Regions from separate parts of the Homo sapiens genome. Here region 2 is linked to region 1. A link means that fine-mapping ties the variant in region 1 to the expression of a gene that starts in the linked region. Tissue or cell type: fibroblasts. Region 1 holds a variant in brackets; the other region holds the start of a gene. All regions are shown on one strand. Distances are between the middles of the regions.

What was found. PIP is the estimated chance that this variant, and not a neighbour inherited with it, causes the effect.
Region 2: SLC19A3 starts here. The variant in region 1 is fine-mapped to the expression of SLC19A3 in fibroblasts (GTEx, PIP 0.94).

Annotation. Positions count from the first base shown.
Region 1 is chr2:227,810,821-227,818,927 of GRCh38, reverse strand. It overlaps CCL20 (C-C motif chemokine ligand 20), which reads right to left and starts at 5,086. Exons shown (of 4, transcript NM_004591.3): 1 at 4,941-5,086; 2 at 3,360-3,474; 3 at 2,544-2,621; 4 at 1,372-1,866. The coding sequence starts at 5,016. The coding sequence ends at 1,845. RefSeq lists an enhancer at 1-1,149. The variant T/C (reference allele first, on the strand shown) is at 3,064.
Region 2 is chr2:227,714,406-227,722,512 of GRCh38, reverse strand. SLC19A3 (solute carrier family 19 member 3) reads left to right here and starts at 4,485. Exons shown (of 6, transcript NM_025243.4): 1 at 4,485-4,570. RefSeq lists an enhancer at 4,068-4,954.

The DNA.
Region 1 (8,107 bases):
CTCCTCTTCATCCGGTATTGCTCAAGGGTGGCGCGATTGGCGTTTGGGGTGGGACAATTCTTCATTGTGCAGAACCATCCGTTGCATTCTAGTGAGTTTAGCAACCCTGGCTCCTACCCTCTGAATGCTTGTTGTACTCACCCTCAGACATTGTGACAACTACACATGCCCGCAGATATTTCCAAACACTTCCTGCTGTCCCTTTTCCAACTAGCTACTTCCTACTGATTCTTCATACCACAAGTATTGGGCTGAATCTTGTGAAATTGTCATCTTCTCAGGTCAATGACATCAAATATTGGCTACTTAATGTGATTCAACTGCATAGTACTTCTTCTGGAAGCCCTCACGAATGATGCCCAATGATTTCATTATTAAAGTGCTTACCACCAAGTGTTGTAAGAGCTGCTTTACTCATTCCTGCCTCTCGCCACATTGCTCAGCCTTAAATATCTAGCAGCAAGTTATTAAGTTTTAAGTCACTTCTTCTCTCTAGCACTTGGCACGGTGCCCAGCACATACTGAACCTATGTGTGATGATGAATCAACACACAGGATGTTGAGCATACTTTCCCTGATGATTCAATGTTGCTGTTCCTGAGGATGCAGACGCCCTTGGGGACTATTGAGCCACTTACTCTTTTTTGGCTCCACATCAAGTGACCCACCACTGCCCTACTTTATGGGTTTATGTGTCTTGATTTTGCATCATATCATCAGCATGCCTGCCTCCAGTGATCCTGTGTGTCCTTTGGAATCCGAGGCACTCTGTGAACCTTGATGCATGAATGTAGTGATAGTAACTACTGGTTCAGAGTCTTTTCATCCTGATTGCTGGGCTCTTACCAGGTTTCACACGTCTGGGGGCTCCCCGCTGGTTAGCAAGGCAGCCACTAAGAACTCTCTGAATAGTCATTTTCCTTTCGGAAACTGCTTAAAGATGACTCGGGAGGACTTTTAAATGGAGAAATGTTCGTATGCTGAGATCCTGGCTGGTGACAGAAGGATGGAAGAAGTGATGCCTGAAGGTATATTCTAAATGGTTGTTGTGTCCCTGTAGTCAAAAGGTGTGTGGGCATGGTTTCTTATTTTAAACAGTTTTCTTAAATCAATAAACATTGGGTTATGAATCTCAGATATAGGATCTTTTTCAACTTTTAATCTGGACGACTTTGAATTAAAGAAAAAAAAGAACAACTGTTCCATTATAATTCATGTAAAATCAAGTCCAGGGCCATGAGGGGCCGAGATAAAGGGAACAACTAGAAGTAAGTGGAGGATATAATTTCTCAGAAAATTCTTATATTTTCTGTGCCTGGAAATGGTTTCAATACACATCATAAAAATGATATAAAACTCAATCAACAGAAGAACTTTTTGTTTCTTTATTTTCAATATTTGTCTTATTAATATTTTTCTTATTTTATAATGCAATTACAACAATTTAGGAGACAAAACAATATAAACAAAAGAATGTTAAATAGTTTTTTTTAAAAAATAGCTTGTTGCTTGCAAGAAAGTCCATATAATCTTATTCCCCCCCAAATATAATTTTATACTTTGCACTAAACCAAAATAGCTTATGGAAAATTAGTATTAAATAGCTAAACACAGAAAACCTACAGCTATAAATAACATAAAATACAGTTTAACTTTAATGTGATGCTTAAACAAAGCAAACTATGATGCAATATGAATCAACTTCATTAATTGGACAAGTCCAGTGAGGCACAAATTAGATAAGCACTAAACCCTCCATGATGTGCAAGTGAAACCTCCAACCCCAGCAAGGTTCTTTCTGTTCTTGGGCTATGTCCAATTCCATTCCAGAAAAGCCACAGTTTTTACATGTTCTTGACTTTTTTACTGTAAAATGAAAAAGAAGAAAAGTGTAAGTAATGACAAGGTGACTGCATGGTGGGAATGACTTTGGTACCTAAAGGTTGCTTCACCTGCCCTTAATCTCAACTCAGTATGTCAAGCAGCTCAGAGTTCAGATGAGGAAATTGAGGTTTAGAGAGGATGGCCCTTGCCCAACCTAACTCAGCTCATTAATGACAGAAACAGGCTATGGACACTTATCTTGTGTCTCCAAGTTCAGTATCTATGGCATGCTGGTGTTAGGTGCCTTCTGTCCATTGATAAAGTGTTACTGTCTATTATTGTCAACGTAAATCAGAACCATTGATCTCTGTTTAACTAATGTTCATTTTTCAGTTTTTAACAAACAACCAAATGCCAGATTGCCTTTAAATTATATAAATAGTAGGCATCTTTGCAACAAGAATCAGGCAGCTAGTAACTATCAAATGCATAGAGAAATCTAATACATCATGTAAGAAATCACTAAATTAAAATAATAATAACGATGATGATCTGTAAGTGGAAAAATGCATTCTTTGTTTTTGTGGTCCAACTCAAATTTTCCCTTTAAAAATTCCACAATAGTTAAACTAAAGAATCCCAGAAAACCTACGGCCCACCCCTTTGCACACTCCTCTTTCCTCAAACATTTGCAAAGGCTAAATGTCAGTGTAACATACCTGAGGAGACGCACAATATATTTCACCCAAGTCTGTTTTGGATTTGCGCACACAGACAACTTTTTCTTTGTGTGAAAGCTGAAAAATCAGAAAATTTGATTTGTGTTTAATGAGCTTTTCAATGGGTTTTTCATAGAACATACAATGGAAATTTTATATTCCAGTTGATTACACACTAAACATTTCAGTTGATGAGGTAAAATAAAATGCACAAAAAATGCTTCTGATGAAGATTAATGCAAAATCAAAGTGATTCTCTCTTTCTCTGCAATGTAACAAATAATAGTACAATGGCAGGAAGATAAAGTCCCAGAATTGTCATATAATTTTGCTATTGGTGGTTACATAGAATATGTATGTATCTGATCAATAACTTGTATAATTCCAAAATATAATATCCTATATAAATCAAGAAAATTATATGTGATAGTATAATTAGTCTGAGATTTTACTTTTGGTCTCAAACACTTTCTGGTAGAAGATGCTCATTTCGAAATGTGTATCTTCCCTATTTTCCTAA[T/C]ATATCACTTTAATAGCCTTAGAAAGTGATTTTTGCCCTATACTAGTTCCGTTTGACCAAAAAAAATTTTTAAAAAAGGTTTTGCCTTATTCCAGTCCTGTTTAAAGTGAACTTTAAAGTAGATATGTACTAAGACAAAGCTATCTTTGCCACATCATTTCTTTCTCTTTAAAATAAGATCTTATGTTCAAAACATCAGTAATTTCTGAATGAAACTCTAAAAAGGCAAACATTTTTAAAACTGAAGTTTCTAGGTATTCCTGATACAACTGAATTAAAATCAATTAATAACTTACATGATAGCATTGATGTCACAGCCTTCATTGGCCAGCTGCCGTGTGAAGCCCACAATAAATTTAGGATGAAGAATACGGTCTGTGTATCCAAGACAGCAGTCAAAGTTGCTTGCTGCTAAAAAAAAAAAAAAGTGAAAGGTATTGGATCCACATGAATAAACTTATCCTGTGATTGGTATTATAAAACTACCTTAAGTTGTGAAAAATCTAGTGAATCTCATGTATATGACGAATAAACCACTTAGAGGAGGAGTTTCAATGTCTTGGAAACCTTTGTAAGGTCGTTGAGAACCAATCTAACATAGTTTACAGTTCTTTGAAAAAACAGTTTGTGTGCCGAGAAGTTTTGGTTCAATAATAGAATTGAGAAACACAGGACTTCTCATAAGTGGGATATCTTCAGTAAGAAATACAAATTGACAATATTTCATTTCAGTTCACTATAATCATTCAAGAATATGAGCAGCCCCTTCCCTACTGCTTGAAGGAACCCTTATGTAGATAAACTTCCAAAAGCAGAAAATGAATAAATTGGCAGATTTTAATCTATTATCTGGCTACTAAGTATTGAGAAATAGAGCTACAAAGGGAAATATGATTTATAGGAGTGAAAACACTTTGAAATTGTCCTATTAATTAATAGGAATGTTTAATTTTGTTCATAAAAGTTCAACATGTGGTTGGGCATGGTGGCTCATGCCTGTAATCCCAGCACTTTGGGAGGCCAAGGAGGAAGGATTGCTTGCCTCCAGGAGTTCGAGACCAGCCTGGGCAACACAGTGAAACCCTGTCTCTACAAAAAAAAAAAAAATGTAAAAAAATTAGCCAGGTGAGTGGCACACGGCCGTGGTCCCTGTTATTCAAGAGGCTGAGACTGGAGGTTCACTTGACTCCAGGAGGTTGAGGCTGTAGTGAGCTGTAATCATGCCACTGCACTCTGGCCTGGGTGATGAAGTTAGACCCTGCCTCAGAAAAAAAAAAAAATTCAATGTGCATTTTTAGGAATGCACCTGTTGCTAAAAGTGTTGTGTGACTATTGAGCAATAAAGCAATACTTGGACATTCCCGAGTCAGATTACAACATGCTGTAAGGTAAGGGATTAATGTTATTTTAAAGTTGGCAAGCAATGTCCCCCATGCCTTGTGGGGATGTTGATGTCAGGTATTATAATCTACTTCTAAAGGATGAGTTTTGAACTTTACCAAAACTATTAAGTTGGGAGGTACGAAAGTTGGGGACACAGGAGGATTCTCTACATTTCAAAATGGCCCCATCTACTGGTAACATTACACACTTTATATCACTCCCAGAAACATCACTTTGGCTTTATCCTGAAGTTTAGGGATCTCTAAGAGCCCACCACTCCCCAAATCTGCTGAGATTGACAGCAGAGAGGAAAGCCTGATCCGCAGCAGTAACTCTTCTCTCCTCCACTCCACCATGGGCAGACAACTTCCATCACTACCTCTTGTATACTTCCTAACAGTTTTCCATCCCTTAGGGACCCCCAGTTGAGCTCAAGGCTAAAAGGAAAATGAAAATAGTCTTTCTTCTGTGCTAGCGGAAAGAGCGACACTTACCTTCTGATTCGCCGCAGAGGTGGAGTAGCAGCACTGACATCAAAGCAGCCAGGAGCAAACTCTTGGTACAGCACATGGTTTTTAGCTCAAAGAACAGATCTGCTCAGTGTTGAGTACCCAGTTCTTTGGGAGTGCTGTTATATTCTGACAGCAGCCTGGGATGGCCCTATTTATAGCAAATATTGGGAATGTACACAGAAGGCGTGTTGCCACATGGGGTTTTCCCCATTGATCAACTGGCCCCATCATGTCATCATAAAAAAAACCCGCAAGGAAAACTTCCTGCTTTTTCCTCATATTGGGAAGGTGCGAAGGTCAGGGTGGGGGACAGGAAGTTGAGAAGGGGAGAATCCTGTTAAATTCTTTGTATTTGCAAAGAGCAAAAGCAGCTCAGCCCTGTGACCCAGAAAAGACTTTCATCCAGTTTTAACTTAATCATTTTTGTGTCTGAAAATAGAGGATTAACAGCGATACAAAGGTCAGCCCCACACAGGAACATTCCAGAACTCCTATTGTTACACCCTATTTGCTTTCCAGAACCAGTCAAGGAGGAGGGGGAGGAGGAGCAGGTGGGATGCCAGGCATACTCTGCTACACATTTACCATCACATGGTTGAGGTTCAGCTGTCATGAAGAAGACCCTGAGTTGCTAGACTAACATTCAGAGCAGGTACTATAACAGTGCTACAGTACTGTCCGCAGTTAGAGTGGAAAATATCAGCCTTTAAGTAAGGCTCAAACCTCAGCTTCACCTTGATTTAATGTCAACTCTTCTAAGAATCTTATACATTCACATGGCTTTAATCAATATTGCAGTTCAGAAAATAATCCTTACCTACCTTTAACTCTCCATGATGATGTACTAATATAACTCAATATAGAGCCTCAGAATTGTTGAGGAAAGAAAACCTATCAGCAGTAGCTAGTCAGCACAGCAAATGTCAAATAACAGTACTAATGATGATAATGTAATATGAATCCCTAACCTAAGGCAGTATAAGAACTCTCCACTAGACCCAAATAGGTTGAAAGTAAAAGGATCAAAAGAAAGGTATACCAAACAGTAAACAAAAGAGAACTGGAGTTGGTGATGCCTATATCAGACAAAATAGATTTTTTTTTAATGTTACCGGAAATAAAAAGGGACTTTCATGGTAACACAAAATTAACCCATTGGGAAGATGTAAAACCTATAACCATATATATACCTAACAGTAGCACCCCAAACTACAGAAAGCAAAAACTGACAGAATTGAAGGGAAGAATAGGAAATTTTATTTTATTTTATTATTATAATTTCTTTTGAGACAGAATTTTGCTCTTGTTGCCCAGGCTGGAGTGCAGTGGCACCATCTCGGCTCACTACAACCTCCGCCTCCTGGGTTCAAGCGATTCGCCTGCCTCAGCCTCCTGAGTAGCTGGGACTACAGGCACGTGCCACCACGCCCAGCGAATTTTTGTATTTTTAGTAGAGACGTGGTTTCACCATGTTGCCCAGGCTGAACTCCTGACCTCATTACAGGCATGAGCCACCGTGCCCAGCAGAATAGGAAATTTAACAATAAAAGTTGACAGCTTTGGTACCACATTTTCACTAATTAATAAAATTTAGGCAGAAGATCCACAAGAAAATAGAAGACTTGAACAACACTATAAGCCAAATAGACTTAGCAGGCATCGAAGGACTACTCTATCCAACATCAACAGAATAGTTGCACATGGAATGTTCTCTAGGATAAAGCATATGGTAGGTTATGGAACAAGTCTCAGTAAATGTAAACCGACTGAAATCACATAAAGTATACATTCAAACCACAATGGAATTAAATCAGAAATCAGTAACAGACAGAAAGGAAACCACATATTCCTAAATAACCAATGTGTCTGGCCAGGAGTGGTGGCTCATGCCTGTAATCCTAGCATTTTGGGAGGCCGAGGTGGGTGGACTGCCTGAGGTCAGGAGTTCGAGACCAGACTGGCCAACATAGTGAAACCCTGTCTCTACTAAAAATACAAATATTAGCCGGGTGTGGTAGTCCATGCCTGTAATCCCAGCTACTTGGGAGGCTGAGGCAGGAGAATCGCATGAGCCCAGGAAGCAGAAGTTACGGCGAGCCGAGATCACGCTACTGCCCTCTAACCTGGCCAACAGAGACTCCATCTCAAAGGAAAAAACAACAACAACAACAACAATGTGTCAAAAGAAAAGTCACTAGAGAAAGTAGAAAACAACTTTGAAATGTAAAAAAAAGTCCACAACATATCAAAACTTATAGGATGTAGCAAAAGCAGTCCTCAGAAGGAAACTTATAGCTGTAAACACTCACATTAAAAAAAAAAAAAAAGAAACATCTCAAAACAATAACCCAAACTTCTACCTTAAGAAACTAGAGAAAAGCAGAGCAAGCTAAACCCAAAGCATGCAGAAGGAGGGAAATGAAGATTAGAGCAGGAATAAATAAAACAGAGAATGCAAAACAATAGAGGAAATCAACGAATGCGAAAGTTAGTTCTTTGAGAAGATCAACAAAACTAACAAGCCTTGACTAGACCAAACCAAACAAAGGAAAGGGAGGTAAAAAAAAAAAAAAAAAAAAAAAAACTGTATGCAAATAAAATTACTATGCCGACAGCACAGTAAAAAGATCATACACCATAACCAAGTGGGATTTATTCCAGGAAATGTAATACAACAAATCAATCAAATAAAAAATAAAAATGATTTGAAAAGCAACTGACAAAATCCAACACGTTGTCATGACAAAAACACTCAACTAACTAGGAATAGTTGAGAACTTTCTCAACCTGATAAAAGTCATCTATGACCACCTCACAGCTGATACGAATAGAGATGAAAGACACAAATTATTGACCCTGATTCAAGAAGAAAATAGAAAATTTGGGATGGGCGTGGTGGCTCATGCCTGTAATCCCAGCACTTTGGGAGGCCAAGGCGGAAGGAGCACAAGGTCAGGAGATCGAGACCATCCTGGCTAACATGGTGAAACCCTGTCTCTACTAAAAATGCAAAAAATTAGCCTGGTGTGGTAGCGGGCACCTGTGATCCCAGCTACTAGGGAGGCTGAGGCAGGAGAATGGCGTGAACCCGGGAGGTAGAGGTTGCAGTGAACCAAGATCGTGTCATTGTACTCCAGCCTGGGCGACAC
Region 2 (8,107 bases), 96 kb after region 1:
TTTTCCTTAAACTTATTTATGACACAGAGTCCTTGGCTCATATTTTCCTGCTGACCCTCTCCCCACCATTACCCCATAGTCCTGCCACATCCCCCTCGCCGAGAAGGTAGAGAGAGTGATCAATAAATGCTGAGGGAACTCAGAGACCAGAGCCGGCGCGGGTCCTCCGTATGCTGAGCGCCGGTCCCCTGGGCCCAGTGTTCTTTCTCTATACTTTGTCTCTGTGTCGTATTTCTTTTCTCAGTCTCTCGTCCCACCAAGAGATGAACGAGAAATACCCACAGGTGTGGAGAGGCTGGCCCCCTTCAATCTACCAGCCTGGCTAAACACATTATGGGAGGAGGAAGAAGAGGAATTCTGCTGAAGGACAATAAAGGATCAGGTACTGAGATTAATTTGTAAGTAGTTCTCTTTGACTGTGAGAGGGTCTATTCAAGTGTGGTTACATTCTTACTCTTACAAGGAGGGGAAGGAAAAACCATAGTTCCCCTTGGTGGGTCTAGATCTTAGGCAGACAGAAGACTTCAGCTTCTTCAGAAGAGACCTTGTCGGGGAGATCAGACAGACCCTTAGGCTTCTGCAGTTCGGTATCTCAAGGCACTGTATTTTGTGTTATCGGTTTATGAGCTCCAACATCTGCAACTGATTTATGATTGGGAGTGTTGGATGGTCCCAGTACGGCAGGTCACAGCTTCTCTCCAACTCTCTATGTGTTTTTTACTCATTCACTCAGCAAATATGTGGCTGCTCTATTAGGCCAGTTATCCAGCCAAGATAGAAATCTAAAGATAAGGCCAGGTGCGGTGGCTCACACCTATAATCCCAGCACTTTGGGAGATCGAGGCGGGCAGATCACCTGAGGTCAGGAGTTTGAGACTAGCCTGACTAACATGGTGAAACCCTGTCTCTACTAAAAATACAAAAATTAGCTGGCCGTAGTGGCAGGTGCGTGTAATCCCAGCTACTCGGGAGGCTGAGGCAGGAGAATCCCCTGAACCCAGGAGGCAGAGGTTGCAGTGAGCCAAGATCGACCCATTACACTACAGCCTGGGCAACACAGTGAGACTCCATCTCAAAAAAAAAAAAAAAAAAAAACTAAACAAATATTTGCCTTCAAAGAGTTAACATTTAAGAGTGAAACAGATAAATTAGCCTACTTGCAGTAATCCTAATGTGAGATTTTCTTTGCCTGGCCACCTTTTCTCCACTCCTATATCAACTATTCAAATAGACTTTTTTTTTTTTTTTTTTTTTTTTTTGAGACAGAGTCTCACTCTGTCACCCAGGCTGGAGTGCAGTGGCGTGATCTCGGCTCACTGCAACCTCCACCTCCTGGGTTCAAGCGATTCTTCTGCCTCAGCCTCCCAAGTAGCTGGGATTACAGGGGTGTGCCGCCACGCCTGGCTAATTTTTGCATTTTTCGTAGAGATGGGGTTTCGCCATGTTGGCCAGGCTAGTCTCGAACTCCTGACCTCAGGTGATCTACTCACCTGGGATTACAGGCGTGAGCTACCATGCCTGGCCTTGTATAGGTTTTCATGGACATAATTGCAGCCACATTTTTTAGTAACAGTGCAAGAGGAAGTATAATAGGGAGGTACACAGTGTTGAGCAACTCCCTAATACACTATGGCTCCCTCTCCTACTGTTCTCATTCAGCCTCCCTGTAGGTTCTTTCCCAAGTTGGAGCTCCAAGCCTCAGGCTTAGTCATCTTCTCCATCCTCTTCTCAGTGGGATCCACGGCACTTACCACTTTCTAACACACTATAAAATTCACTAACTCATCATGTTTACTATTTATGTTCCCTCTATATACCCCATCCCAAGCTAGAATGTAAATTACAAGGCAGAGATTTTTAGCTTTGTTCACGAATGTATCCCAAGCACCTAGGACAGTGTCTGGCACATAGTTACTCAATAAATAACTTCTTAATGAACAAATGATTTTTTTTTCTTTTTTGTGTATGGGTTTATTTGAGACAGGGTCTGGCTCTGTCACTCAGGCTGGAGTGCAATGGTGTGATCTCAGCTCATTGCAACCTCCACCTCTTTAGGCTCAAGCCAATCTCCCACTTCAGCCTCCCAAGTAGCTGGGACTACAGACGCATGCTACCACGTCTGGGTAATTTTTGTATTTTTGTAGAGACAGGGTCTCACTGTGTTGCCCAGGCTGGTCTTGAACTCCTGGGCTCAAGCGATGCACCCACCTCGGCTCCCCAAAGTGCTATATTACAGGCATTAGCCACTGTGCCCAGTCAGAATAAATGATTTTAAAACAATTTTGTATTATGGAAAATAAACATATACAAAAATGGAAAATAGTGCAATCAGTTTCTAAGAACTACTGCCCAAGTCAACAATAATCAACACACAGCCAATCTTTTGTCATCTATGACCCCATCCACAGCCTTCTCCCCACACAGTCGTATGGGATCAAACTCAAATGTCATGTCATGTAATCTGCAAATGTGTCATTTATGTTTCTATGCATGAATGAATGAATTCCTCAATATCTCTCTCTGATTTAGACTGTGGCTATGAGATATTAGAGAATCAGAGTAAACTTCTCAAGGTCCAATTTGAACTCATTTTCTTCAAGAGGTGTGAAGGAAATCATGACACCTTCAGCCTTTAAGAAAATTTCACAATATTCTTTGGGAGGACCCAGCAATTTGCAAGGTTGCACAATGAGCAGGGCACTCCTACACCTAAGGTTCAGCTCAGGACTTTTCACAAATCATAGGAAGATGAAAATAGAAAACGCAGAGTCGTAGGACAGAGAACCAAGACACCTCGGGGTGTTTTAATCCATTTCACTTCCACTGGTAGCCCTTAGAAGCCACGCAGTGTTTATCTTTAGGGAGGGTTTTTCAAGTCCACCAAGAGATGAACAGAAATAAAAATATTTTTTCCATTTTAACCAATAAGAACCTTGTAATGCTTTAAAAAAATTCTCTGTTTAATAAGAAGTTTCACTTTAATATATAAACTCTTTGCAGGCTAAGCGTAGTGGCTCATGCCTGTAATCCCAACACTTTGGGCGGGCAAGGCAGGAGGATCCTTTGAGCCCAGGAGTTCAAGACCAGCCTGGGCAAGATAGTGAGACTCTGTCTCTACCAAAAAAAAAAAACAAAAAAATTAATGTGACGTGGTGGCACCCACCTGCAAGCCCAGCTACTTGGGAGGCTGAGGCAGGAGGATCAGTGTGCCTGGGAGATTGAGGTTGCAGTGAGCTGGGGTTGCACCACTGCACTCCAGCCTGGGAGATAAAGTGAGACTTTGTCAAAAAAAAAAAAAAAAGAAAGAAAGAAAGAGAAAAGAAAAGAAAAGAGGCCAGGTGGCCGGGTGCTGTGGCTCACACCTGTAATCCTAGCACTTTGGGAGGCCGAGGCGGGTGGATCACCTGAGGTCAGGAGTTTGAGACCAGCCTGGACAACATGGTGAAACCCCATCTCTACTAAAAATACAAAAATTAGCTGGGTGTGGTGACGGGCGCCTGTAATCCCAGCTACTAGGGAGGCTGAGGCAGAAGAATTGCTGGAACCCGGGAGGTGGAGGTTGCAGTGAGCCAAGATCGTGCCATTGCACTCCAGCCCGGGGCCAACAACAGCGAGGCTCCATCTCAAAAAAAAAAAGAAAGAAAGAAAGAAAGAAAAAAGACCAGGCGCGGTGGCTCACGCCTGTAATCTCAGCACTTTGAGAGGCCGAGGCAGGCGGATCACGAGGCCAGGAGTTCGAGATGAGCCTGGCCAATATGGTGAAACCAAACCCCGTCTCTACTAAAAACACAAAAATTAACTGGGCGTTAATTTTTGGAGGCTGAGGCAGGAGAATCGCTTGAACCCGGGAGGCGGAGGGTTGTAGTGAGCCGAGATCGCGCCACTGCACTCCATCCTGGGCGACAGAGGGAGACTCTGTCTCAAAAAAAAAAAAAAGAAAGAAAGAAAAGAGAAAAGAAAAGAAAAAGAAGAAGAAAAGAAAAAATTGTTTGTATCAGATTTTCAAAGTGCCAGGAAACCATCCCACTCTACCTCCTTTAAAAAAAAAAAGTGCAGAGTGATTATAACCACTGGCTCTGGAGCCAGGAGCCCCAACTAAAACCCAGGCTTCTCTATTTACTAGGCCTACTTCCTTCCGCCTCACTTTCTTCATGTGTAGAGTGGGGGTGACAGCCAGCCAGCCCTCTCTCCTAAGCTTTTGGAGAGAAATAAATGGATTCATAAGAAAGGACATATTTGTAAATAAAGCAAACGATCGCTGTTGGATTCAGGCCCTCTTGCTTCATTATGCTGAATGTCAGTGTATTACTTAAGTTGTTCCTTTCAGCAGAGTTGACTGTTTCTGCCCAGAAAACCGGCCCTGGGCCAGGAAAATCTGGGCTTCCACACTGGGATGAAAGGTCTGGACGCCCGGATTCGCATATGCAAAGCGTGGGGGCGTGGCCCCGGGCTCCGGGCCAGGCAGGCTCCGCCCCCTTCCCACCAAGAGCGCCTGGATCCATCCGACAGCCGCGGGTGCGTGGTCGTGCGGCAAGTGAGCGATTTGGTGAACAGACACTCCCTTCTGTAGGTAAGAATATCTCGGGGGGCGAATTAATTGAAGAAGCACCGTCATCCCTCGGTCTTAGCAGTGTCGCCTCTCTCTTCCCGGGTTTGGAGAGCTGGGGGCGGGTTCCTGGCTCTGCGGGCCTGGGCTACACTCTGAGCCGCGTGAGGAGCTCTCCCCCTACGCCGCAGCCCGCGTGCTGGGATTCACCCAAGTGGGTTTGTCTGGAATTCCCATTTGCAGCCTTCTGGAAGCGCAGATTAAATAAAATCATGATTCCCGTAAAGTGCCAGCACCTCCTATGGTTACATCCCACGTTCACAGATTTTAACTGAAAAGGCATTTTAGCATAGAATTCCAAATTCCAATCCAAGGATGGAGAAAAGGTCCTTCCTAGTGGGAAAAAGGAAGGTGAGTTTGAATTTAAGAGAGCAGGGGCTTTTTTGGGAACCACTTGAAATTTAGTTAATTGAAACTAAAAGAAAACGCAACTACACCTTACAAAAACACTGCTGGAAAGGATACCTAAGTCATCAAATAATAAATAGTGTGACAGCTGTTTACCAAATCAATGTCGCTGCCGCAAATGTGCAAAAGGTTGGGACTTTCGGAGTGCTTCAAGTTTGAAAAAGGTAAAGGAATAATGTTTTCTAAAAGTACTCTCAGGCCAGGCGCAGTGGCTCACGCCTGTAATCCCAGCACTTTGGGAGGCTGAGCGGGGCGGATTGCTTGAGGTCAGGAATTCGAGACCAGCTTGGCCCTGGGATGAAACCCCGTCTCTACTAAAAAGGCAAAAATTAGCCGGGCATGGTGGCGGGTGCCTGTAATCCCAGCTACACTGGAGGCTGAGGCTGAAGAATGGCTTGAACTTGGGAGGCGAAGGTTGCAGTGAGCCAAGATTGCACCACTGCACTCCAGCCTGGGCGACCCAGCAAGATTCTGCCTCAAAAAAAAAAAAAAAAAAAAAAAAAAAGCACTCTCATGTGTTTTGCTCCTATCAATATTGAAACATTGGTGTCTCCTGTGGCAAAAGGTGTTTTTTTCATCGAGGCACATATATTAAATAGACCAAAACATAACTTCCCAAATATCTTATAAGATTATCCTAGTAGTAGCTGAAATGGACAAAAATACCAATTTCCTTCAGTCATTATTGCTAATAGACCAACAACACTCTTTTAAGGTTGTGTAATGGTAAATGCATACACATTTATTTAACATGCACACAGGGAGAATCAGAGTGATTGATTACCCACCCTGCAACATGTCTCAGAAGCTTATAGACTACCCTGGCAAATGAGGTTACGGGAGGGAGCCGAAGAGCATCCAGCAGAAGTGGATGGGCTTCTGCTAGGGAGCATGAATGGGTCAGGGGAGAGAATAAGCTACATTATCTTGTGAATGGGTCTGTTCAGGTGTGGGGTATATTCTTGGTCTTACAGGGAAGGGAAAAGAAACAGTTGTTCCTTTTGGTGGGTCTGGATCTTAGGCAGACAAAGGTTTTTTTGAGCTGGGAGCCGGGAAGGTCAGAGAGACCTTGAGGTCTCCAGCATGTCAAAGCCCCATATTTTGGGGTATCGGCTTCTGAGTCCCGGCACTTATTAGTGACGAAACTGATGAGTCTGTAGTAGCCAGATCAAAGAAGAACCCAAAGAATGGGTACATTCGTAGATCAGGAATATTGAATAATGAAATATAGATCAGGAATATTGAAACTGGTTTTCCATGGGGGAAAGGAAGACTGTTGTCCTTCATGGGATAAACCTTATTTGCATGTCTATAGACAATAATTACTTAACATTGCCATCAGTTGTTAAAATTTACAGAGTTGTAAAATAGCTCAAATGACCTCTAATTTTTCTTTAATCCAGTTTTTTCCCTACAACACCACCTTCTCTCAGTGCATTTAATCAGAAACTTTCACTGCATCTCAAGGATTAGATGTCAGCTGACTTTCCTTTTTTGTTTTGTTTTGTTTGGGGTTTTTGAAATTTTTTTTTTTTTTTTTTTTTTTTGAGACGGAGTCTCGCTCTTGTTGCCCAGGCTGGAGTGCAGTGGCTGGGATCTCGGCTCACCGCAGCCTTGACTTTCCCTGTTCAAGCAATCTTCCCACTTCAGTCTCCCAACTACCTGGCACTATAGGCACACACCACCATGCCTAGCTAATTTTTGTATTTTTTATAGAGGTGAGGTCTCGCTATTTTGCCCAGGCTGGGCTCAGTTGACTTTCTAAGCCGTTTTATGTTTTTCTTAGTTTTATGGTTTTCTTAGGCATATTCCTCCTGCTCTCCCTAAGACTAGATTGATCTGAACATAGACATAACAGAATAAACAGAATTTGGAAGGAAATGATTAATTTACCAGCAAACACCTCATGCAAATTAAAAGGAATGGTACCATATATGATAAAATAAAATCTGAAGCATCTTAAAGATCACTTGGGCTGGGTGCGGTGGCTCACACCTGTAATCCCAGCACTTTGGGAGGCCAAGGCAGGCGGATTTCTTGAGGCCAGGAGTTCAAGAGTAGCCTGGCCAACATGGCAAAGCCCCATCTTTACTAAAAATAAAATTTTAAAAATATCACTTGTTTCTGCTCTTACAAAAACAAACAACAGAACTATTCTGGCCCACATACTGAATATCTGGGTCTAGTTTACGTCTTTGGAAGTTGTGTGGCATGCTTTATTTCAGCAAAGATTTTTTTTTGGGGGGGGTGTGGGGTTTGACATAAAGGATTATAGATGGGTGATAAGGCTACTTTGTAGTTTTTTGAGAGTCTAGGTCACTTAGCACAAAATTCTATAGAAGCTAAATTAGGTGACTTTAGTAAGAATAGTCAGGGCAAGGCCAGGCACGGCGGCTCACACCTGTAATCCCAGCACTTTGAGTGGCTGAGGCGGGTGGAGCACTTGAGGTCAGGAGTTCAAAACCAGCCTGACCAACAAGGCAAAACCCTGTCTCTACTAAAAATACAAAAATTAGCCAGGCCTGGTGGCGGGTGCCTGTGGTCTCAGCTACTCAGGAGACTGAGGTGGGAGAATCGCTTGAACCCAGGAGGCAGTGGTTGCGGTGAGTGGGGAGATTGTGCCACTACACTCCAGACTCCAGCCTGGGTGACAGAGGGAGACTCTGTCTCAAAAAAAAAAAAAAAAAAAAAAAGAATAGTCAGGGAAAGGTGTTATTCATGTATTTATCTCTCTAATCACTTGTATTTCAGAAAGATCTGGATCTGGGTGTCTGCTTTTTTTTTTTTTTTTTTTTGGATGGGATTTCAAATGTCATCGGCTGCAGAAGAGGGTGGGCCCCAGTACATAAAGCCACCAGAAGTGGATGGGCTTCTGCGTATAAAGCTATTGCTCTTGGCAGCTCTGTCTGAAGGAGGAGGACAAGAGACTCCAGGGTATGGAAAGGGATTTTCATAGTGGCGGGCAGCAGGAAGGAGCAGAAGTTGGACCTGAAGGCAGGAAGCCAGCTTGGTTCTAGAAAGAAAGAAACTGGGGGCACAGAAAAAAACAGGTAACTCAAGGGATCCTCCTGCCTCAGCTTCTGAGATTCAGAT